Linked DNA regions of Homo sapiens. The protein of the gene in region 1 interacts with the protein of each later gene in a biochemical or structural test. Each region holds a gene or a part of one and is shown in the gene's direction. Other genes may lie near its edges.

Evidence for each region. Proteins that work in one complex are often made in the same cells at the same time.
Region 2: the proteins of PTEN (region 1) and SSR4 form a complex in vitro, tested with the Homo sapiens proteins (2 studies listed by BioGRID).

Annotation. Positions count from the first base shown.
Region 1 is NC_000010.11:87,964,625-87,971,641, forward strand, and holds part of PTEN (phosphatidylinositol 3,4,5-trisphosphate 3-phosphatase and dual-specificity protein phosphatase PTEN), read left to right. Parts: intron 1-662; coding exon 663-848; 3' UTR 849-7,017. UniProt on the Homo sapiens protein: Dual-specificity protein phosphatase, dephosphorylating tyrosine-, serine- and threonine-phosphorylated proteins.
Region 2 is NC_000023.11:153,789,718-153,797,673, forward strand, and holds the start of SSR4 (translocon-associated protein subunit delta isoform 2 precursor), read left to right. Parts: upstream 1-4,950; 5' UTR 4,951-4,956; coding exon of another isoform or gene 4,957-4,970; coding exon 4,971-5,037; intron 5,038-5,945; exon of another isoform or gene 5,946-6,139; intron 6,140-6,716; coding exon 6,717-6,835; intron 6,836-7,740; coding exon 7,741-7,815; intron 7,816-7,956. Other genes in the region: IDH3G (isocitrate dehydrogenase [NAD] subunit gamma, mitochondrial isoform a precursor), read right to left, coding at 1-107, 478-575, 847-858, 1,093-1,134, 4,529-4,609. UniProt on the Homo sapiens protein: TRAP proteins are part of a complex whose function is to bind calcium to the ER membrane and thereby regulate the retention of ER resident proteins.

The DNA of each region.
Region 1 (7,017 bases):
TGTGAATTGAATTTTGTAATTCAAATGCTATATTATGTAAACTATTGATGACTTTCAATCTGCATTTATTTTGTATAATTATTTAGTTAATATTTGCCACTTATATTCCTTAAAAAATAAAATTGAGGTTGGGCGTGGTGGCTCACACTTGTAATCCCAGCACTTTGGGAGGCTGAGGCAGGCAGATTGCCTGAGCTCAGGAGTTTGAGATCAGCCTGGGCAACATCATGAACCCCATTTCTACTAAAATACAAAAAATTATCTGGGCATGGTGGTGTACACCTGTAGCCCTAGCTGTTTGGGAGGCTAAGGCACGAGAATTGCTTGAACCCGGGAGGCAGAGGTTGCAGTGAGCCAAGATCATGCCACTGCACTCCAGCTTGGCAACAGAGCAAGACTCTTGTCTCCAGAAATAAAAATAAATAAATTGTATTAACATCCTGATAGTTTATCTGTTTAGTACCTAGCAAGAAAGAAAATGTTGAACATCTTAAGAAGAGGGTCATTTAAAAGGCCTCTTAAAGATCATGTTTGTTACAGTGCTTAAAAATTAATATGTTCATCTGCAAAATGGAATAAAAAATCTGTTAAAAATATATTTCACTAAATAGTTTAAGATGAGTCATATTTGTGGGTTTTCATTTTAAATTTTCTTTCTCTAGGTGAAGCTGTACTTCACAAAAACAGTAGAGGAGCCGTCAAATCCAGAGGCTAGCAGTTCAACTTCTGTAACACCAGATGTTAGTGACAATGAACCTGATCATTATAGATATTCTGACACCACTGACTCTGATCCAGAGAATGAACCTTTTGATGAAGATCAGCATACACAAATTACAAAAGTCTGAATTTTTTTTTATCAAGAGGGATAAAACACCATGAAAATAAACTTGAATAAACTGAAAATGGACCTTTTTTTTTTTAATGGCAATAGGACATTGTGTCAGATTACCAGTTATAGGAACAATTCTCTTTTCCTGACCAATCTTGTTTTACCCTATACATCCACAGGGTTTTGACACTTGTTGTCCAGTTGAAAAAAGGTTGTGTAGCTGTGTCATGTATATACCTTTTTGTGTCAAAAGGACATTTAAAATTCAATTAGGATTAATAAAGATGGCACTTTCCCGTTTTATTCCAGTTTTATAAAAAGTGGAGACAGACTGATGTGTATACGTAGGAATTTTTTCCTTTTGTGTTCTGTCACCAACTGAAGTGGCTAAAGAGCTTTGTGATATACTGGTTCACATCCTACCCCTTTGCACTTGTGGCAACAGATAAGTTTGCAGTTGGCTAAGAGAGGTTTCCGAAGGGTTTTGCTACATTCTAATGCATGTATTCGGGTTAGGGGAATGGAGGGAATGCTCAGAAAGGAAATAATTTTATGCTGGACTCTGGACCATATACCATCTCCAGCTATTTACACACACCTTTCTTTAGCATGCTACAGTTATTAATCTGGACATTCGAGGAATTGGCCGCTGTCACTGCTTGTTGTTTGCGCATTTTTTTTTAAAGCATATTGGTGCTAGAAAAGGCAGCTAAAGGAAGTGAATCTGTATTGGGGTACAGGAATGAACCTTCTGCAACATCTTAAGATCCACAAATGAAGGGATATAAAAATAATGTCATAGGTAAGAAACACAGCAACAATGACTTAACCATATAAATGTGGAGGCTATCAACAAAGAATGGGCTTGAAACATTATAAAAATTGACAATGATTTATTAAATATGTTTTCTCAATTGTAACGACTTCTCCATCTCCTGTGTAATCAAGGCCAGTGCTAAAATTCAGATGCTGTTAGTACCTACATCAGTCAACAACTTACACTTATTTTACTAGTTTTCAATCATAATACCTGCTGTGGATGCTTCATGTGCTGCCTGCAAGCTTCTTTTTTCTCATTAAATATAAAATATTTTGTAATGCTGCACAGAAATTTTCAATTTGAGATTCTACAGTAAGCGTTTTTTTTCTTTGAAGATTTATGATGCACTTATTCAATAGCTGTCAGCCGTTCCACCCTTTTGACCTTACACATTCTATTACAATGAATTTTGCAGTTTTGCACATTTTTTAAATGTCATTAACTGTTAGGGAATTTTACTTGAATACTGAATACATATAATGTTTATATTAAAAAGGACATTTGTGTTAAAAAGGAAATTAGAGTTGCAGTAAACTTTCAATGCTGCACACAAAAAAAAGACATTTGATTTTTCAGTAGAAATTGTCCTACATGTGCTTTATTGATTTGCTATTGAAAGAATAGGGTTTTTTTTTTTTTTTTTTTTTTTTTTTTTAAATGTGCAGTGTTGAATCATTTCTTCATAGTGCTCCCCCGAGTTGGGACTAGGGCTTCAATTTCACTTCTTAAAAAAAATCATCATATATTTGATATGCCCAGACTGCATACGATTTTAAGCGGAGTACAACTACTATTGTAAAGCTAATGTGAAGATATTATTAAAAAGGTTTTTTTTTCCAGAAATTTGGTGTCTTCAAATTATACCTTCACCTTGACATTTGAATATCCAGCCATTTTGTTTCTTAATGGTATAAAATTCCATTTTCAATAACTTATTGGTGCTGAAATTGTTCACTAGCTGTGGTCTGACCTAGTTAATTTACAAATACAGATTGAATAGGACCTACTAGAGCAGCATTTATAGAGTTTGATGGCAAATAGATTAGGCAGAACTTCATCTAAAATATTCTTAGTAAATAATGTTGACACGTTTTCCATACCTTGTCAGTTTCATTCAACAATTTTTAAATTTTTAACAAAGCTCTTAGGATTTACACATTTATATTTAAACATTGATATATAGAGTATTGATTGATTGCTCATAAGTTAAATTGGTAAAGTTAGAGACAACTATTCTAACACCTCACCATTGAAATTTATATGCCACCTTGTCTTTCATAAAAGCTGAAAATTGTTACCTAAAATGAAAATCAACTTCATGTTTTGAAGATAGTTATAAATATTGTTCTTTGTTACAATTTCGGGCACCGCATATTAAAACGTAACTTTATTGTTCCAATATGTAACATGGAGGGCCAGGTCATAAATAATGACATTATAATGGGCTTTTGCACTGTTATTATTTTTCCTTTGGAATGTGAAGGTCTGAATGAGGGTTTTGATTTTGAATGTTTCAATGTTTTTGAGAAGCCTTGCTTACATTTTATGGTGTAGTCATTGGAAATGGAAAAATGGCATTATATATATTATATATATAAATATATATTATACATACTCTCCTTACTTTATTTCAGTTACCATCCCCATAGAATTTGACAAGAATTGCTATGACTGAAAGGTTTTCGAGTCCTAATTAAAACTTTATTTATGGCAGTATTCATAATTAGCCTGAAATGCATTCTGTAGGTAATCTCTGAGTTTCTGGAATATTTTCTTAGACTTTTTGGATGTGCAGCAGCTTACATGTCTGAAGTTACTTGAAGGCATCACTTTTAAGAAAGCTTACAGTTGGGCCCTGTACCATCCCAAGTCCTTTGTAGCTCCTCTTGAACATGTTTGCCATACTTTTAAAAGGGTAGTTGAATAAATAGCATCACCATTCTTTGCTGTGGCACAGGTTATAAACTTAAGTGGAGTTTACCGGCAGCATCAAATGTTTCAGCTTTAAAAAATAAAAGTAGGGTACAAGTTTAATGTTTAGTTCTAGAAATTTTGTGCAATATGTTCATAACGATGGCTGTGGTTGCCACAAAGTGCCTCGTTTACCTTTAAATACTGTTAATGTGTCATGCATGCAGATGGAAGGGGTGGAACTGTGCACTAAAGTGGGGGCTTTAACTGTAGTATTTGGCAGAGTTGCCTTCTACCTGCCAGTTCAAAAGTTCAACCTGTTTTCATATAGAATATATATACTAAAAAATTTCAGTCTGTTAAACAGCCTTACTCTGATTCAGCCTCTTCAGATACTCTTGTGCTGTGCAGCAGTGGCTCTGTGTGTAAATGCTATGCACTGAGGATACACAAAAATACCAATATGATGTGTACAGGATAATGCCTCATCCCAATCAGATGTCCATTTGTTATTGTGTTTGTTAACAACCCTTTATCTCTTAGTGTTATAAACTCCACTTAAAACTGATTAAAGTCTCATTCTTGTCATTGTGTGGGTGTTTTATTAAATGAGAGTTTATAATTCAAATTGCTTAAGTCCATTGAAGTTTTAATTAATGGGCAGCCAAATGTGAATACAAAGTTTTCAGTTTTTTTTTTTCCTGCTGTCCTTCAAAGCCTACTGTTTAAAAAAAAAAAAAAAAAAAAACATGGCCTGAGAGTAGAGTATCTGTCTACTCATGTTTAATTAAGGAAAAACACTTATTTTTAGGGCTTTAGTCATCACTTCATAAATTGTATAAGCACATTAAATAGCGTTCTAGTCCTGAAAAAGTCCAAGATTCTTAGAAAATTGTGCATATTTTTATTATGACAGATGTTTGAAGATAATTCCCCAGAATGGATTTGATACTTTAGATTTCAATTTTGTGGCTTTTGTCTATTATTCTGTACTCTGCCATCAGCATATGGAAAGCTTCATTTACTCATCATGACTTGTGCCATATAAAAATTGATATTTCGGAATAGTCTAAAGGACTTTTTGTACTTGAATTTAATCATGTTGTTTCTAATATTCTTAAAAGCTTGAAGACTAAAGCATATCCTTTCAACAAAGCATAGTAAGGTAATAAGAAAGTGTAGTTTGTACAAGTGTTAAAAAAATAAAGTAGACAATGTTACAGTGGGACTTATTATTTCAAGTTTACATTTTCTCCATGTAATTTTTTAAAAAGTAAATGAAAAAATGTGCAATAATGTAAAATATGAAGTGTATGTGTACACACATTTTATTTTTCGGTATCTTGGGTATACGTATGGTTGAAAACTATACTGGAGTCTAAAAGTATTCTAATTTATAAGAAGACATTTTGGTGATGTTTGAAAAATAGAAATGTGCTAGTTTTGTTTTTATATCATGTCCTTTGTACGTTGTAATATGAGCTGGCTTGGTTCAGTAAATGCCATCACCATTTCCATTGAGAATTTAAAACTCACCAGTGTTTAATATGCAGGCTTCCAAAGGCTTATGAAAAAAATCAAGACCCTTAAATCTAGTTAATTTGCTGCTAACATGAAACTCTTTGGTTCTTTTATTTTTGCCAGATAATTAGACACACATCTAAAGCTTAGTCTTAAATGGCTTAAGTGTAGCTATTGATTAGTGCTGTTGCTAGTTCAGAAAGAAATGTTTGTGAATGGAAACAAGAATATTCAGTCCAAACTGTTGTAAGGACAGTACCTGAAAACCAGGAAACAGGATAATGGAAAAAGTCTTTTAAAGATGAAATGTTGGAGCCAACTTTCTTATAGAATTAATTGTATGTGGCTATAGAAAGCCTAATGATTGTTGCTTATTTTTGAGAGCATATTATTCTTTTATGACCATAATCTTGCTGTTTTTCCATCTTCCAAAAGATCTTCCTTCTAATATGTATATCAGAATGTGGGTAGCCAGTCAGACAAATTCATATTGGTTGGTAGCTTTAAAAAGTTTGTAATGTGAAGACAGGAAAGGACAAAATAGTTTGCTTTGGTGGTAGTACTCTGGTTGTTAAGCTAGGTATTTTGAGACTACTTCCCCATCACAACAACAATAAAATAATCACTCATAATCCTATCACCTGGAGACATAGCCATCGTTAATATGTTAGTGACTATACAATCATGTTTTCTTCTGTATATCCATGTATATTCTTTAAAAATGAAATTTATACTGTACCTGATCTCAAAGCTTTTTAGCTTAGTATATCTGTCATGAATTTGTAGGATGTTCCATTGCATCAGAAAACGGACAGTGATTTGATTACTTTCTAATGCCACAGATGCAGATTACATGTAGTTATTGAGAATCCTTTCGAATTCAGTGGCTTAATCATGAATGTCTAAATATTGTTGACATTAGGATGATACATGTAAATTAAAGTTACATTTGTTTAGCATAGACAAGCTTAACATTGTAGATGTTTCTCTTCAAAAATCATCTTAAACATTTGCATTTGGAATTGTGTTAAATAGAATGTGTGAAACACTGTATTAGTAAACTTCATCACCTTTCTACTTCCTTATAGTTTGAACTTTTCAGTTTTTGTAGTTCCCAAACAGTTGCTCAATTTAGAGCAAATTAATTTAACACCTGCCAAAAAAAGGCTGCTGTTGGCTTATCAGTTGTCTTTAAATTCAAATGCTCATGTGACTTTTATCACATCAAAAAATATTTCATTAATGATTCACCTTTAGCTCTGAAAATTACCGCGTTTAGTAATTATAGTGGGCTTATAAAAACATGCAACTCTTTTTGATAGTTATTTGAGAATTTTGGTGAAAAATATTTAGCTGAGGGCAGTATAGAACTTATAAACCAATATATTGATATTTTTAAAACATTTTTACATATAAGTAAACTGCCATCTTTGAGCATAACTACATTTAAAAATAAAGCTGCATATTTTTAAATCAAGTGTTTAACAAGAATTTATATTTTTTATTTTTTAAAATTAAAAATAATTTATATTTCCTCTGTTGCATGAGGATTCTCATCTGTGCTTATAATGGTTAGAGATTTTATTTGTGTGGAATGAAGTGAGGCTTGTAGTCATGGTTCTAGTGTTTCAGTTTGCCAAGTCTGTTTACTGCAGTGAAATTCATCAAATGTTTCAGTGTGGTTTTCTGTAGCCTATCATTTACTGGCTATTTTTTTATGTACACCTTTAGGATTTTCTGCCTACTCTATCCAGTTGTCCAAATGATATCCTACATTTTACAAATGCCCTTTCAGTTTCTATTTTCTTTTTCCATTAAATTGCCCTCATGTCCTAATGTGCAGTTTGTAAGTGTGTGTGTGTGTGTCTGTGTGTGTGTGAATTTGATTTTCAAGAGTGCTAGACTTCCAATTTGAGAGATTAAATAATTTAAT
Region 2 (7,956 bases), on another chromosome or scaffold:
GGGCCACGCGGTTCCGGCGGATGGCCATGATGGCATTGCGAATGTCCTCTTCATCAGCATTGGAACTCACGTGCACCTCTTCAAAGTCCACTGGTACACATGCGTGCCTGAGGCACGGCAGGGTCAGGGAGGCTGGCCCAGACCCCCCCGCACCTCCTCCAGGAAGCCTGCCCAGGCTACCTCTCTCCTGTTGCTACCTGCCCTGACCTGGCTCTGACTGAGAAGGGACTGGGCCCACCTTCACTGACTGATGGGGACACGCTTGAACTCCACAATGCACACTGTGGCAGGACTGGTGCCACCTTCCCCGAGCCCAGGCCAGTCTGGCGGGATCACAGGCCATGGGACGCAAGGCCTGGGCTTACAGGTCGTCTTGCCATGGCCTCACCGAGTGCTTCTGGGCGCAATGCCCCTCTTGGCACAAAGTCCTCAGGGCCCCCTGGCTGAGGACAAGGCGGGGACCCAGGAGCTCCATACCTGAAGACGGACTTGACATGCAGCATGAGCTCTGGCCCGATGCCATCCCCTGGGATCATGGTCACCGTGTGCCGCCCGCCATACTTAGCGGACGGAGGCTGTGGGAGGCAGAGGGTGAAGGTGGGCCTTCGGGGATCCCACATGCCCCCAGCTCGGCCCCCATGGGCTCAAGCCAATTCCCTTCTTCCCACTGGCGCTGACCCCACAGGCTGCCCCGTCACAAGGTGCCAACTTGGGGCAGCCCCGTCCCAGACAGGGCTGCTCATCCAGGGCTCCTGGGTCAGCAGCAGCCCACCCCCACCTGGAATTTAGTTAACCCCAAAGCAACTAAGAGCCCCCCAAACCTAACAGGCAGAGAAGAATACTCACAATTGTTTGTTCCTAGAAAGGATGAGAAAGGAAGAAGACACAATCAGCCAAGGTTCCAAGAGCAAGGCCGTGACCAGGAAAGTGGGACCTTTTCCCAGGGGGATGCTGGCTAGTACAACTCCCAGAAGAGGGGTGGGTAGCCCCTGGAGACCACGTCTCAGAGGACAGGACACAGGCCGTGCACACACGCGCACAATTGCGGCCACATGGAGAAAGACACATGCGTGGGCACGGGCAGGTACTTACTGAAAAGATGTTCCTCGAGGGGACCTCGTGGGCGCCTAGAACCTGGCAGAGACCAAATGCCAGCGGTTGGTTTGATGTCTAACCCAGAAAGCCAAGTTGGAAGGAAAAACGGACCGTCCCCACTGTGCCCAGGCAGGTCCCCTGTCTGTGCAGCATGGCCCACTGCCAGGGGCACAATAGATAATTAGCTCCAAAGCCTCAGTCCCCAGGGCCGGCCCGCTGGAGCACCTGGAAAGTAGAAGGCGCTCCAGCCTCCTGCCTCCTTCCGCTCTTCAGAAAATTTCTTAAAAGGCGTGTCCCTGCCCTCCCTCCTCTTTTTTGCTTCTGATTATTTTTTTGGCCAGTTATTCCCGCTCAGCGATGTTTGTAACATGCAAAAACTGGCAAACTAACCCTGGTACAGCAGGGAAATCATTACAACAAACCACAGATCCATGACAACAGTCACGTTATCACTTCGCCGATCACTTTTTCTTATTACAAAAGCAGCATGTGGTCGCTACAGAAAAAGCAGAATAGGGAGATAAGAAGGTAGCACCCAGCCTCCGGCCTCCCTGAGACAAGCACTGCTGGCCCCCTGGGGAATGGCCCTTCGGCATTAGAAATCGAAAACAAATGTGTAGGGACATCCAGCCATTTCTGGAAGGTTGATAACAGAAACCCAACTCTAGGAAGGCCTTCGGAAAGGACTGCTGGATGCCGAATGTCCCCAACGCCCTGACTGGAAATGCCGGACAGCTTCAGAGCCAAAGCTGCCTGAGCCAAATGTGCCAGGTGCCAAGTGACCTGCTGTCCTGGAAGAAGCCCCACCTAGAACACACCTGAGACGGTGGCAGAGCCAAGGTCTTCCCTGTCACTTGGGGATGCCCTGCCACTTGACCACCAGGCAGCAGCAAAGTGTTCCAGCCAATGGCAGAAGCATCATAGCCATTGGCCAAAGAGCCATGCCTTCCAGCTAGAAGTCCAGAAAGGCTCGGGCGGAGTCTGACCTCTCCCTGTCTGTGTGTCCCTGGCCGGCACTCATCAGTCCAAGCCAGGGGCTAGGAGAGGGTGCCCACAAGGACCAGAGCCCCGAGGATAGCTCAGCTGATCTGTGTGGCACCTGGATCTGCAAGCACAGGCACGGTCGGGACTTTTCTGTCTTCTCTCTAGCGCTTATCAACGGGTCGGGACTTTTCTGTCTTCTCTCTAGCGCTTATCAACATCTGAAATCATCTTATTTGGGGGCTCTTGTAAGCACGCAGAAAGCGGCTTCGATGGACCTTCCTCCAGGGAGCTTTCCCTGATGCCCTAAGGCTACTGAGCTGGGACCCTAAGGCCCTACTTACCCCCTTCCCTAGGTTATCACTGCATTGCTCCCTCCTCAACCCCTGAGCCCGAGAGGAGGGGCCAAGTCAGTGTGGTCCAATACTGTCACCCTAGGACCCAGCACAGTACCTGGCCCAGAGCTGGCACATAAGGAACATTTCCTGAGTGAACAAGCACATCAGAAAATGAAAAAAGATCTGGAGACTAGGGAGGCCTCGGTCCAAATCCACCATCCACTCTTCTTGAGATGGCTTCATGGCCTCATCTGAAATTCACAGAACGGAGGTACCTACTTTCCGTGACTGTTGGAAAGATTAGGGGACAGGAGGTGTGTGAGCTGCTCACAGTAGCTAGTGCCACACAGCACGCCTGCCCCTTCACCCCACTGGCCCCTCAGGTCAGAGTTCAAGGCTGGTGTCCCTGGGAGGTCACGGGTGGACCCCTGCAGCTCCCAGCAGTAGTTCCTCCTGGGCTTCAGCTGTGGCAGCAAGCCAATCTCCTGAGAGCATGGACCTCCCTCACAGATGGCAACATCACCACCAGGGCTGAGCTGAACCTCTCTGCCACCCGGTCCCTGTGCCAGGTGTTCCTTTGGGCTTTGGCAAAAGACCCAGAGAGCGCTCCAGATGGACTTCCCTGACCTTACTGTACAGATGCAGGCACCTTCCTTCAGGAGGTCGCAAAGGCTCTGCCTTGTGCCCTGACTTCCCTGTGAAGCCACCAATCAAAGGAGCCAAGTGTGAGGCAGGATGCAATATGTACACGCCTCCCGCTCTCCCATCACCCTTTCATGGTTCCATGGAAAGAAAGAACATCCACACCCCACATCTTATGCCTGCTGAGGCTTCTGTCTTTGGCATATTTCTGTTGGACCATGTGTCAATGGTGGCTGCATGTTTTCCTATGGCGTCCAAATCAGTGGGATTCAAGACCTGGGGTTCCTCTGTAAGGGTTCTCACACCCAGGACGGTCAGTCTCAGGGCAAGGCACTGCCCAGCTACCCACCGTTCACTGTCCCCTACTCCCACCCCAACGCACACACAGGCACACACACAGGGGAGGTCAGGGAGGAGGCACACATGTCTTCACCAAGAGCCTACAGGAGCCCAGTTGCTGGAGCCATCAGAGCCTCTGGAAAGCCACTATATACTGCCGTCCTTTCAGCAGCAAGGTGGGAGAAGTCAGCATCGTCAAGAGAATTTCATTAGGCACAAGCAGTCTCCCCCAGAGGTCAGAAGGAGAAAACATGGCAAGTAGAGATGTCCCTGGGGAGTGGCCGCAAAGTCACGGAGTTCTGGAAGGTCAGAGTTGACAGGATCCTTTGAGAACATGAAGTCTCCTCCCCTCTGGGTTCCAAAGGGGAAACTAGAACCCAGAGAGAGGAGGAAATGGCCTAAGGCCACGCAGTGGCTCAGTGTGGGAGCATGGCCTAGAGGTCAAACCTCTTACCCATCAGGGCCAGGTGCTGGCTGGCAGCTGCTTCAGATGGTTTCCAGCCCACCTAGGACCTAAATTAACCTCTTCTTAAATAAGTGTAAGGAAAGAAGACTCGGACCTGAATACGCAAGACCGCACACGGAGAAGAGCAGAAGCAAAACCCCCGCAGCCTCAGAAACCCTAGCTCCTTCCCATTCCAGGCGCCTCGAGGGGAAGGCATCTGGGGCTCTAAGACTGGGGGACTATGGGGGATGACTGGCAAAGTCCGGTTCTTTGCCACCGGGATAGGTGGCAAAGCGGTCCACGAGAGAGGAAACCGTGGAGAAATTTGAGTCCCGGAACCGGATTCCCGAAGCGGTTTGAGAAAGGCGGGCCGGGATACGTGAGTGACTGCCTCAGAAGGGCTCCTTCAAGGACACTAAGGAGGTGACAGCCGCCGTGGCCCACTCTCCCGGCCCGTCCGGAGGGCCCCCCGCCACCCGATGCAGACCCCCTGGGGGAGCCGGTCCAGGGCCAACTTCGGCCAATCCCCTCAGTGACAGCGGAGGCGGCCAATCAACCCCGGCGCGAAGCCCTTTCCCCGCCCCTGGTGGGGCCCCTAGCCAATCGGACTCCAGACTGCTTCGGGTGCGGCTACCCCACCGCTCCCCTGCGACCGCTGCCGCGGTCCCGTGGCTCTTTCCCTGCTCACCTCCCAGGGACGGCAGAGAAGGGCTGGCCCGAGCACCGCCTTCGCGGCGCTGCCGGCGACGGTCGCTACCTTCAGCGCCATGACGGAAAGTGAGAGCCTCCGCACGTCCCGACACGCAGATACCGCTCTCGCGAGAGTTCGACGGGGTGCGAAGTTTCGGGGACAGGCGCGGACCCGGTACTGCGCACGCGCGCGGTCGCACCGATTCACGCCCCCTTCCGGCGCCTAGAGCACCGCTGCCGCCATGTTGAGGGGGGGACCGCGACCAGCTGGGCCCCTGGCTCAGGGAGGGGCCACGTCAGTGCTGCCAGAGACGTCACAATGCCGGCCCAGCCGTTCGGTGCGCGATTGGCTGCCGCTGCCACTTACGCGTCGCTCTTCCTCGTTTGCCCCTCGTGTTCATGGGAGCTCGTTTTCTTTTCCTCTAGGCAGAGAAGAGGCGATGGCGGCGATGGCATCTCTCGGCGCCCTGGCGCTGCTCCTGCTGTCCAGCCTCTCCCGCTGCTCAGGTAGCGGCCCAGCCGGGGCTTCTTTCTTGCGAGCCTCTGACCCACGGCAGGTGGTGTTGGGGGCAGGAGGGATGCGGGGGTCCGGCCTTTCAGGGTCCGTCGCTGCGGGCCGGGCCTTCCCCCGAGAGGCAGGCGGCCTTGGGACGGGGGGACCAAAGCACCTCGCGCACGTTTACCGGCAGCCAGGCTTTTCCTTGTCTGCCCATACGAAGAGGAGTCCCCGAGCCTCCATGGTGCGCCCGGCCCCCAAGCTGCAGCACGGAACGTGACACATGTCCCGGCTCCCGCTCCCTGCGGGGTCGGACCGGAGCGAAGCTCTGTAGCGCTGAGCGATCGCGGCCAAAAACGGGGCTGGAGGAGCCACATAAGCTAGGAAGGGACCTCAGTGAGGAGAGGGAGCAAGAGCGGGGCGAGTTAGATGGGGAGCCAAAGGTGCGCAGGGCCTTGAGTGCCAGGCCGAAGACTGGCTTTTCCGGAGGGCCCTGCCTTACCCTTACCAGAGTTTTCGGCAGAGCCGACCAGGGGTCCCGTCGATTTGCATTCGTGAGGGGCTGAGGTCTGAACTCCAGAGTGTGTTTAGGAGGTGGCTGCAGCAGCCAGCCCCGGGCCCGGGGGCCAGGACTGGACAGGGGCGGCTTTCTCCACATTCCCTTTTCTGCCGTCCTTCAGGCCAGTAGCCTTGCTGCCTGCAACGTTTTGGCAGCCTAACTGGCCTCCCTTTCCGCACACTCCTCATCTGCCCCTCAGGAATTCCCTGAACTATAGTCAGGGACGTATCCAGAGGACAAGCCTGGCCATAAAACCCTTCGGGGGCTCCCCTGCGCCACAGGAAGCAGGCCCAACTTAGGCAGGACACAGAAGGGCTGGCGGGATCTAGCCCCTGAGAACTGCCTCCACGCTGTTCCTAGGGATCTGCCTCCTGTGGTCCAGACCCAGAGCCTTCTCTGACGTCCTCTGCTGAAGCCATCGTTCTGCCAGGGCACCACATTTGGACAGCGGGTGGCTGAGAACATTCCCACTTTGGGGAGCCTTTGTTTCACACCCTCTGATGTAGGCGGCAGCCTTCCTTTCCTTTGGGCCTCTGGTTATGGAGAAGGCTAAGGCAAGGTCCTTTCTCTCACAGCTAACAAGTTGTGCTTCTGGAACCAGAGTCTCTCCCGTTTACTTCTTCAGGAAACGCTGGGGCCAGTCTTCACCTTCTGTCAACTGGCCGGGGGCAGAGACCCTTTCTCTCATCTTGAAAGCCCCAGTGCATTGCCTGCCTGCAGCCCCCACCCCCGATGTCTCTGCTGAGGATGCCTTCAGTAACTCGTCCAGGCCGTTTGTGGCTCTGAATTGAGGCTGGCGTGGCCCCCGGGCCTCCGTGTCATAGGTCCAAGTGTTGGCATGTATTGTCCAGTGAATCCAGCCCCCACCTGTCCCCAGTTCGCTCTTCCTGCACACCTCCAGAAAGCCGGCCTTGCCCCTCCCCAGCCTTCCTTCACAGCCATCCCGCCTACGTTGCCATTGCATTTGTGACCGAGCACTTGGATCTGTCTCGCATATCCCACCTGGAAGGGGCAGGAAGAGCGCATGGGTCCCCAGCTGATCCGTGCTATGAGGCAGGGCCGGGCCATCCTGCCCTCAGACCGGGATACTCGAGCTGGCCTTACCCAGGCATCTCTCCCTCTTCCCCGCAGCCGAGGCCTGCCTGGAGCCCCAGATCACCCCTTCCTACTACACCACTTCTGACGCTGTCATTTCCACTGAGACCGTCTTCATTGTGGAGATCTCCCTGACATGCAAGAACAGGGTCCAGGTGAGACAGTGGGGTTTCAGACAGGAGGGCGGGTGGGGGGTGCTCCTCACTGCTAGTTGATGGGGGACCTGTGTCGATAGAGGGAGAATCAAGATTCCAACTCTTGGGGTGCCGGAGAGATCAGGGCACGGTGATGCCAGATCCTAGCCAGTGTTGACAGGTCACCTTCCTCACCTGCTTTGTGTGCTGTGCCTACACGAGGTAACCCTGGGCTCACCACCCGCTGTTTCCTGAATGAGTATCTGGACCGGGAGAAAGGGCCAGGAGTCAGCCCACCCCGGTTGCCATTGGCCAGTTTGTCTGTGTGGGTGTTTTGTTTTTGTTTTTGTTTTTTGTTTGTTTTTTTGAGATAGGGTCTCACTCTGTTGCCTCAGCTGGAGTGCATTGGCACGATCTTGGCTCACTGCAGCCTCCACCTCCCGGGTTCAAGCGATTCTCCTCTCAGTCTCCTAAGTAGCTGGGATGACAGGTGCTCGCCACCATGCCCAGCTAAGTTCCCATAAGTCCAAAGAAGGAAATGGGGCCTTTTTTGGGTATGGCCCTCTTAGGGTAAAGCACCCCTTGGGCAGCCCACTGGGCACCCCTGACCCCAGCACCTCCCTTGTAGACTCAGGAAATCACTCAGCCCTTTTGATCATCCCGCCCCTGCTCACAGTCAACAGGGTTCCTATGCGTCCAGTTAGGCCCGGCCATGGGGATCTGGCCTTGTGCCCCCGTAGGGAAGACCAATGCAGAGGGCCAGTCACGGGATTGGTGAGTGTTACTTGGTACCTCCTGCCAGGGACACTGCAGCCCCCAACTGGGCCTAGCCTGCCCACCTGCAGGCCGTGTGAGCAGCGCACAGGGCTCCTCTGCCCACACCCAGAGGGGGCAGAAGGTGACCCTGCCTTTGTTCCCTCACCCAGAACATGGCTCTCTATGCTGACGTCGGTGGAAAACAATTCCCTGTCACTCGAGGCCAGGATGTGGGGCGTTATCAGGTGAGGGGCCAATGGTTCCCTTGCTAGGGGGCTCCCTGCTCCCGGGTGTGACCTGAAGCCCCAGGGGTGGCCGGTCAACCAGGGCCAGGGGCCGTGGGCTCTGGCTGCCGGAGTGCTGCAGTGTCGGCACTGGTGGTCAGG